Regions from separate parts of the Homo sapiens genome. Here region 2 is linked to region 1. The links come from fine-mapping of genetic effects on gene expression. A gene starts in region 1. The other region holds a variant in brackets. All regions are shown on one strand. Distances are between the middles of the regions. Region 1 holds the start of ABCC3 (ATP binding cassette subfamily C member 3). Region 2 overlaps SPAG9 (sperm associated antigen 9).

Evidence for each region. PIP is the estimated chance that this variant, and not a neighbour inherited with it, causes the effect.
Region 2: its variant is the best candidate, but not a certain one, in a credible set for the expression of ABCC3 in subcutaneous fat (FUSION, PIP 0.66).

The regions. Positions count from the first base shown.
Region 1 is chr17:50,632,310-50,636,697 of GRCh38, forward strand. It overlaps ABCC3 (ATP binding cassette subfamily C member 3), which reads left to right and starts at 2,572. Exons shown (of 31, transcript NM_003786.4): 1 at 2,572-2,672. The coding sequence starts at 2,628. RefSeq lists a silencer at 2,542-2,591.
Region 2 is chr17:51,048,022-51,052,409 of GRCh38, forward strand. All of the region lies in intron 3 of SPAG9 (sperm associated antigen 9), which reads right to left. Among named protein-coding and RNA genes, the nearest start is that of SPAG9, 71 kb to the right of the region's middle. The variant A/G (reference allele first, on the strand shown) is at 2,014.

The sequences.
Region 1 (4,388 bases):
AAGCAGCCTTGAAGACAGATACAGGAAGTGCATCCCGCTCAAGGAGACTGCGCAGAAACAGTCTCCTCGGCAGACGTGGGGCGCCTCCTGCGTGTGCTGGGATAAGCTCTGTGGCGCTGAGCAAGCTGTAGGGTGTCTCAGGGCCTCAGATTTCTTGCTCTGGTGAGAACAACCAAAACAATAACATCCTAGAAATATTGTGGTTATTATTCAAGGGCTCTGTGAAAGGGGACACACTTCCTGAGTGGCCTGGAGGGGTAAAGCCCCAATACCTCAAGAGAGATGGGGGAAGGTGAGGATCGCTAAGGGCCCCCACCACGCCCTCAGAGTGCCCAACCCAGTGCTATAGCCTTGGGAAAGCAATAGCGATAGAAAAGCCTGGGGCTGCAAGGGATGGTGCTTCAGCTCCGATGCTGAAGCCAGAACCCAAGGGTCCTAGCCCAAAACTAGAGCTCCAGCCAGTGCACTGCCTGGCCAACTGTGGGGCTGGAAAGTCCCGGACGGAAGCTCAGGCTAGTTCTGGGCTCTCCATCTCAGAAAGGAGGTCTGATTGGGGAGCTCACCTCCCAAAGGGCCCTAAAGGAAAGTCCCCAGGTCTCCTCAAGCCCAGAGCAATCTGGTGCCTATGACCCCACAAGCCCTAGAAAAGGAATGGGAGAGGAGGGAGAGTTGGAGGAAGCCGGTGGGTAGACAAGGTCAAAACACAGGGGCAGTGGGTGCTGATGAAGCCATGACCAGGGTCATGGAAGGGGTGGAGGAAGGTTCCCAGCTGCCTAGGCCATAGAAGCCTGGCCCACCAGGGCTGGAAGAGAGCTTAGATATCACCCTGTCCACGTTTCTCAAGAAATGAAGTCCCAGAGGCATCAAGGAGCTTATTGAGATCACACAGTGTATAAAAGGTATGGAGGGGGATTGGAGGGGACTGAGTTAGTCCCTGCCCTTGGGGACCTCTCAGATTAGCAGGGAAGACAGACTCTTCATAACTAAATATAATCCAAGGCACGCCGTAACAAGGTGTAAAGCTCTGTAAAGTATTTTGCCCAGAGATGAAGGTAGGGGGACAGGAGAGGGAGGGTATGTGTGGATGAGTGGAAAGGAAGAGGGCAGACAAAGAAGGGGCTGAAAGAACTTGCCCAGTGGAGGGGTAGAAGTCCCTGGTCTGACTGCCTGGGAAAGGGGAATCTTCTCCACTCCCACCCCTATCCCATGCCCAGCCAGATCTTGGTTCTGATAGCCTATAGCCAAGGAGACTTCCCTTCTAGTGACCTCCTGGCTGCCCAGAGAGATAGGAGGTGGCTTGCCCCTTCTGCACTCTTACTGGCTCCCACCCACACCTGCCGCTGAGCAGCCAAGGAAGGAAACACCTTCTCTTGAGAACAAGGGCCAGAAAAGGGGTCACCGGGGTGAAACTGGACAGACCTGTGGGCAAAGGCAGGGAAGAGAAGGGCCAGGGAAAGATTTGCCAGGGAGAATTCCTTCTGAGCCCCAACAAGCGGTGCTGAGTTGGCGTCTGGGATTGTGTTAAGGAAGACAGGGCAACAGCGGGATTGAGAGATGGAGGGATCCCCGCATCTGAGGGGATACCGGGAGAAGGAGAGCTGAGGCAAGCAGGAGAAGGAGAGCACTGACAAGCCCATTTTACAGATCAGGAATGTAGAGTTTCAGCCTTAGGAGGAGGACGAGGACGAGGACACTCACGTGGGGCTCCTCCTGGGGCTTCACCTGTCCTTCCCCCCCCAACCCTGATCAGGCTGAAGCAGAGGGAATTCACACATGTTGGGTGCCCACTAAGTGTGCCAGGAAATACGCTTTGCCTACCCTTTCCATTCAATCCTCAGAGAACCCTGGGAGGAAGATTCTCTTCTATGATTGTCTCTATTTTACGGATGTGAAAGTAGAGGCCCAGAGACGTGCCGAGGTGATGTGGCAAGGTCAGGGAGCCACAGAGCCTAAGAGGGCAGCAGTTTAAGAGGACATAAGAGGCCCCCGCTGGACGATGCTGCGGCCCCCACCCCCGCCTCACGGGTACACACCCGCGGAGCACACCCCGTGTGCTCCCCGTGTGGCGCCTGCCAGTGGTCTCTGGAACCTGATGGGGAAGAGGTCAGCTTCCTGATTGAGCACAGAAGCCCTTCCCATTTTACAGATGAGGAAACTGACCTCCGGAGAGGAACGTGACCTTCTCAAAGATTCCTTTTTTACTAGGAAAGATTGTTAAATCCCTCTCCCTACGTCCCCTACTCAATGACTCATCGGCCCCACGGACTTGTTCGGGAGTGGGAGCGCCTGTGTATCCCAGTTCCCCCTTGGAAATAGACTCGACTCCTGGACTGTTAGCCTCGGTATTTAGAGAGACATCCCCCTGGCTTGGCCCAGGGGCCGCTCGCAGGGGCTGTCGCCGTGCCAAGGGCCCCCCCACCTCTGCCCCAAAGTCCCTCCCAGGGAGGCGCTGTCGCAACCCGCGGGACGGGGGCAGGGAGACCGGACCCAGAGGCACTGGGGTAGGGCTCGGCAGGGCGGGTCCGGGCGGAGCGCGGGGTGCGGAGGGCGGAGGCGGCTCCGGCGCCCGCTCTGCCCGCCGCTGGGTCCGACCGCGCTCGCCTTCCTTGCAGCCGCGCCTCGGCCCCATGGACGCCCTGTGCGGTTCCGGGGAGCTCGGCTCCAAGTTCTGGGTAAGGCGCGGGGCTCCGGGGTCACTGCGCGGGGGCCAGGGTCGGCCGGCTTCGCCCGGTCCCCGCCGCCTGCCTTCCCGCGGGGCCGGCAGGTATCCCGGGACGGAGCCCCTGAGACGGCCTGGGCGCCCGGGAGGGGGCGATGGGCTCGGGAGGGAGGTTGGCTGCGCCGCCCGGAGCCGGGTCCCACGCGGTGTCGGGGACCTGCCCTGCTCTGCCCTTCCCGGCTGCAGCACTGGGGAGCCCGGGAAAGTGAGGAAGAGTGCGCGGCTGGGGCGCAAAGGCACAGTGCGTGGCTGGGTGAGTCGGCTCCATCCCAGCCCCTCCGTCGGGTGCGGAAGGGGCGTTTCGCAATCAGCCGCGGGTTCCTGATGGAGGGTCTTCCCTCAGCATCTGCCTCAGGTTAGGACTCGGTTGCCCACCTGGGCATGGATTGCCCCCAGGGCATCCAGAGCACCTGCTCAACCAGGTGTTTTGGGAGGCCGGCTGTGCAGTGTCCCACCCTTCTTAGGAAGGTTTCCTGCCACCTTCTTTTCTCTAGGTAAGACTGAGGTCTGAGAGCAGGCCATCCCCACCACTCCGGACTCAGAAGGGAGAAGCAGACCCCAGTCTGGAGACAGGTGCAGGGTGTCAGGATTCCTGTAGTCCAACTCCCTTCTCACAGATGGAGAAAGGGAGGCCCAGAGAGAGGAAGGGACTTGCCCAAAGTTACCCAGTTCAATGAAGGCAGAGCTGGGATAGAAAAACAGGCTACAGGCCAGGTGCAGTGGTTCACGCCTGTAATCCCACCCTTTGGGAGGCAGAGGTGGGAGGATCACTTCAGCCCAGGAGTTTTAGATTACTGTGAGCTATGATCGCACCACTGCACTGTGGCCTGGGCGAAAGAGTGAGACCCTGTCTCTAAAAAAATAAATAAATAAGAAAAGAAAATCAAGCCTTTGGTGACTCTCACTCCAAATCTCTTTCTAAGACAGGCTGCTCTTCAGCCTGCTGACTCCAGCCTCCAGCACAGTTCAGGTGAGCTAAGTGCATACAGCCTAGGAGCTTTCTTACCAACTTGCAAAACTTACTTGCCTCTATGAGGCAAGTGATCATGTGGTCTCCGTTTTACAGAGGGAGCTCAGATTAAAGGTGCTTCTCTGTGGTCATTAAAGGGGTGTCCAGGGCTTGTGAATCCCAATCTCTAAGTCTTTTCCTATTTTGAGTATTTGTACATATATGCCCTTTGTGTGTGTACGCACACACGCAGGCACGTGGGGTGTTACCCAAGAGTTCGTGCTGTGCACGTGTGTGCACAGGTGTATAAGTCTGGAGCTATGCTCTTGGGCTGTGTTTAGAATGGGCTGAAGGCGTTATATGGATTTTTTGAAACTTGGGGCAATGGAGGTAAAAAAAAAAACTGTAAAAAGGCATATTTGGGATTCTCTCTTTTTCTGTGGGTGACCCAAAGGTTAATCCGAGATGGTGCAACTTCTCTGCCACTGCCCTTCTTTCCCAGTCCCACAGGAACTTCATGTATTATTCAGCATGGACAGGCCACTTGCCACCAGGGTCCAGAGGTTGTGCCTTTGCCTCATGAGCACACTTCCTTTCACTGCCCTTTGGGCCAGGCTGGTATGACCGTGGCAGGTTTGTGGTGCCTGGGATGCCAAACAGAAAATCAAGAGGGTAGTTGTGCCCAAGCTTCAGGCACAAGGGCTCATTGTTCCTGGGTAG
Region 2 (4,388 bases), 420 kb after region 1:
GAATGTTAAAATACTTTCTCCTTTGACTGTTACTGGTATCATTACTTGGTATAATCATCTATTATAACAGCAGCAAATTAATACAAATGTAAAAAATTAGAATACTTTTTGAGTCTTAGATAAGGAATCATATGACAGACAAGCTGAATAAGAAAGTAAAAACTTCAAGAATATAAAGTACATAAACTGCCAAGAACTTCTAATGTCCTATTTGATTCTTGATAATATATAGTTTCACTTTTAAAAAGCCTAAATTTGGAATTAAGACATAAAATCAAAAGGCCTTTGCTAGAGATACTAACATGATATGAATAAGAAAAAAATGAATTTTAAAAAACAAGAAATAGTGTGTTAGTATTTAAAGGGTGTAAATATTAAGAGGCAAGCAAAGGTTGATGTCTTTCTTGGGAATATTACTTGAATTCTTTTTTTTTTTAATGTCCCTTCTCACCATTCCTAAGGAATATTACTTGAATTCTTAACGCTGTACATAGAATAGCTTTGGAAGTCACTAAACTTTAGCTGTATTAAGATGCATTTCAATCTCTTTATAACTTAAAATATGCACTGTAGCATATTAAGTAACAAAATAAAATTTTTAAAAAGTTTAAATTCACTTTACAAAGCTTGCTTTTGTTGTAGAAATTTTATTTGGCATGTACAAATATTAGGAAATGTAAGTTAATTTTAAGATGTTATTTATCATCAAATAAACAAAAAGCTGAACTCTGATGCATGAAATAAAACAAATTAACCAGACTGTTCCTCAATGAAGACTAGTCCAAACAACAAATGTTATCCACAAAGAATGAAAACAGAATCACATGAATATAGTATCTTAAAATTTTTTAATTGACATACTTTTTATTTTAAATTTATAGATTTTACCACCATTTACACAACAGTTTTGGAGAAATACACCTTTCATCTATCAGCAAGTCAGAAATAATGAGCTTCCTTGTGTCAGGAAGAATTTTCAGGAACAAAAATCAAACTGAAACTAATATAACAAAGTGACTGTCAGGCTTAATCAATCTCAATTTAAATTTTCAAAAGGTTTTAGAAGGCCTAAATTAAGGCTTTGCAGTGGCTCACGCCTGTAATCCCAGCACTTTGGGAGGTAGGAGGTTTGCTTGAGGCCAGGAATTTGAGATCAGCCTGGGCAACACAGCAAGACACCAGCTCTAGAAAAAAAAATACAACAACTAGCAGGCACTCGCCTATAGTCCCTACTGCTCAGGAGGCAGAAGTGGGAGAACTGCTTGGACCCAGAAGTTCAAGGCTGCTGTGAGCTATGATCATGCCACTGCACTCCAGCCTGGGCAACAGAATGAGACCCCTCAAAAAAAAAAACCACTTTAAAAATAAAAGAGGTCAGGTGCAGTAGCTAATGCCTGTAATCCCAGCACTTTGGGAGGCTGAGGTGGGAGGACTGCTTGAGCCCAGGAGTTTGAGACCAACCTGAGCAACACAGGGAGACCCTGTCTCTACAAAAAAATTTTTAAAAATTAGCTGGGTATTTTGGGATGCGCCTGTAGTACCAGCTACTTGGGAGGCTGAGGTGGGAAGATCGTTTGAGCCAGGGAGATCAAAACTGCAGTGAACCATGAGTCTCACTCTGTCGCCCAGGCTGGAGTACAGTGGCGCGATCTCGGCTTATTGCAATCTCTGCCTCCCACATTCAAGCGATTCTGCCTCCCAAGTAGCTGGGTACTACAGGTGCCCGCCACCACACCCAGCTAATTTCTGTATTTTTAGTAGAGACGGGGTTTCACCATGTTGGCCAGGCTGGTCTCAAACTCCTGACCTCAAGTGATCCACCCGCCTTGGCCTCCCAAAGTGTTGGGATTACAGGTGTGAGCCACGGCGCCCAGCCGTGAATTCTTATATACACTGGATAGTAAAGTAATTGTATGTATGGGATTGATTTGTTCAAATGGAGGACCTAAGTTTCCTTAAGCATTCAGATGAAGAAAACAAACTCACCCCAGATTGCTGTATAGTAATCTATGA[A/G]CTCAATATAGAAAAAGAATGACAAGCAAAATGCAAAAATAGTTCTCCCCCAATAGCCATTCTACAGACTGATTCTCTATTATCTTATTCTAAACTTTCTTTTAATGACTAGTCCAATGTAATTACAGATATAGTATTCTGACATTCCAAAATTATCTATATAATGAAATCAATTCTAACTCAACCAAACTAGCACTTTAAAGGAAAGAACTGACAACCAAAAATGACTGAGGGGGAAAAGAAAAGAGAGAACAATAACAACAAAATGGCAGCTATTATTTATTGAGCACCAATTATAAGTCAGTCAGTGCAGTTACAGCCATTTTTTCTCCATTTAATCCTCACCATATCATGATTTCATAGGTAAACTCCAAGTTGATTGTCTGGTCAATGACTAACTTTTCAAGTTGTCACTAGCTTTGGGGCCAGAACTCTGGCCTGCCTGACTCAGTCATCTGAGTTATTAAGAATTACAGGACTCAGGCCGCCTTTGTACTTAATTCTCTGAGCAGGCAATGAGCCCATTGTCCTTTCTTCCTCATACCCACAAGAAAATCCCATACCCTAAAGCATTTCCTGATGTCTGGAATAAAATGATATGCACTATAGTCTATAAACACACAAAAAAGAACAAAAATTATACATAACAATTTAAATATTAATAAGGCCTCACAGTATCACTCAGGTTAAAAAAAAAAAAAGTGAGTGGGAGGGAGCACCAGTGTTGTTAGACAGAAAAGAGAAGTGAGAAAGTAAAATAGGACACGCTTCAGATAATCTATTCTTGGGTCCACCAGGTCCATTGCTTCTGGTCTCAGAACTGCAATTCTCAATTTTCTCAGGTATGCATATTAATTCACACATTCAGGAGTCAATTCAGCAATAAACAACTGAAGAGAGAGAGAAAAAGAGAGGAAGGAAGAAAGGAAAGAACGAAGGGAGGGAGGAAAGGGAAGGAAGGAAAGAAAGAAAAGAAAGGAAGAAAGAGAATTTAAAAATAAAAAAAAAACAAAAAGAAAAAGAAAGAAGGGAGGGAGGGAGGGAAAAGAAAAATGTCTAGTGGAACTAAAGGTGTAGTGTGTTTTTTTGTTTTGTGACGGAGGCTTGCTCTGTCACCCAGGCTGGAGTGCAGTGGCACAATCTCAGCTCACTGCAACCTCCACCTCCTGGTTCAAGCGATTCTCCTGACTCAGCCTCCCAGGTAGCTGGGATTACAGGTGCCTGCCACCATGCCTGGCTAATTTTTGTATTTTTAGTAGAAATGGAGTTTCACCATGTTGGCCAGGCTGGTCTTAAACTCCTGACCTCAGATAATCCCCCCACCTCGGCTCCCAAAGTGCTGGGATAACAGGCGTGAGCCACTGCACTCGGCCAAGGTGTTAGTGTTATTAAAAGTTCAGGGAGACTGGGTGCTGTGGCTCACACATGTAATCCCAGCACTTCGGAAGGCCGGGACGGGCAGATCACTTGAGGCCAGGAGTTTAAGACCAGCCTGGACAACATGGTGAAACCCAGTCTCTACTAAAAATACAAAAAGTAGCCGAGCGTGGTGGCATGTGCCTATAGTCCCAGCTATTCAGGAGGCTGAGGTGGGAGAATCACATGAACCCTGGAGGCGGAGGTTGCAGTGGGCCGAGATCACGCCACTGCACTCCAGCCTGGGCAACACAACGAGACTCCCTCTTAAAAAAAAATCAGGCAATAGAATCTGACAAACCTGGCTTCAAATCTAGTCACTAACTAGCCTAGAATTTGGGGCAAATCATTTTATAGACTCTTTCTAAACCTCAATCTGTAAAATGGGAATGGATGAGAATTTGGTCAAAGGATAAAATGAGAATGCATTCAAACACTCCCTGATGTGAGACTCTCCCAAGATTCCAAAGGGCTAAAGTTTTTGGTGATTAGCATACACATGTGGGCCCGAGTGCTTCAAAATTGTCCTTTATATTTCTTCCACTGCCCTCTTTAAGGCATGTCTTTTAAGCAAATTCAGTAATGTATACAAAAATTTGATTTAAGAATAGTTGACTATTTAAATTTAAGAATAGTTATTCTTAAATCAAATTTTAAAAAGCCACGGTAGGTTTCCCTTAAGCAACAATGAATGTGTTTCATAAAAGTGCTAAACAACTATTAAAAGACATTATCTTCTTTGGAAATAATAGTGAAAAGGTTAAGGTTAAACCCCTTCAGGCTTCCTTTCCCTGAATGTTTTCAGAGTTTATGTTTTAAGGGCGCCTAGTTCTTTGGCTTTAGATAGCTATTTATAATTGCTAATTGAATGACATCTCTAGAACAGATGTATAAACAGAAAAAATTGTGGGCTAGAGCAGAACAGACCCACATTTCAAAGCAGCCCTATATATGTTACA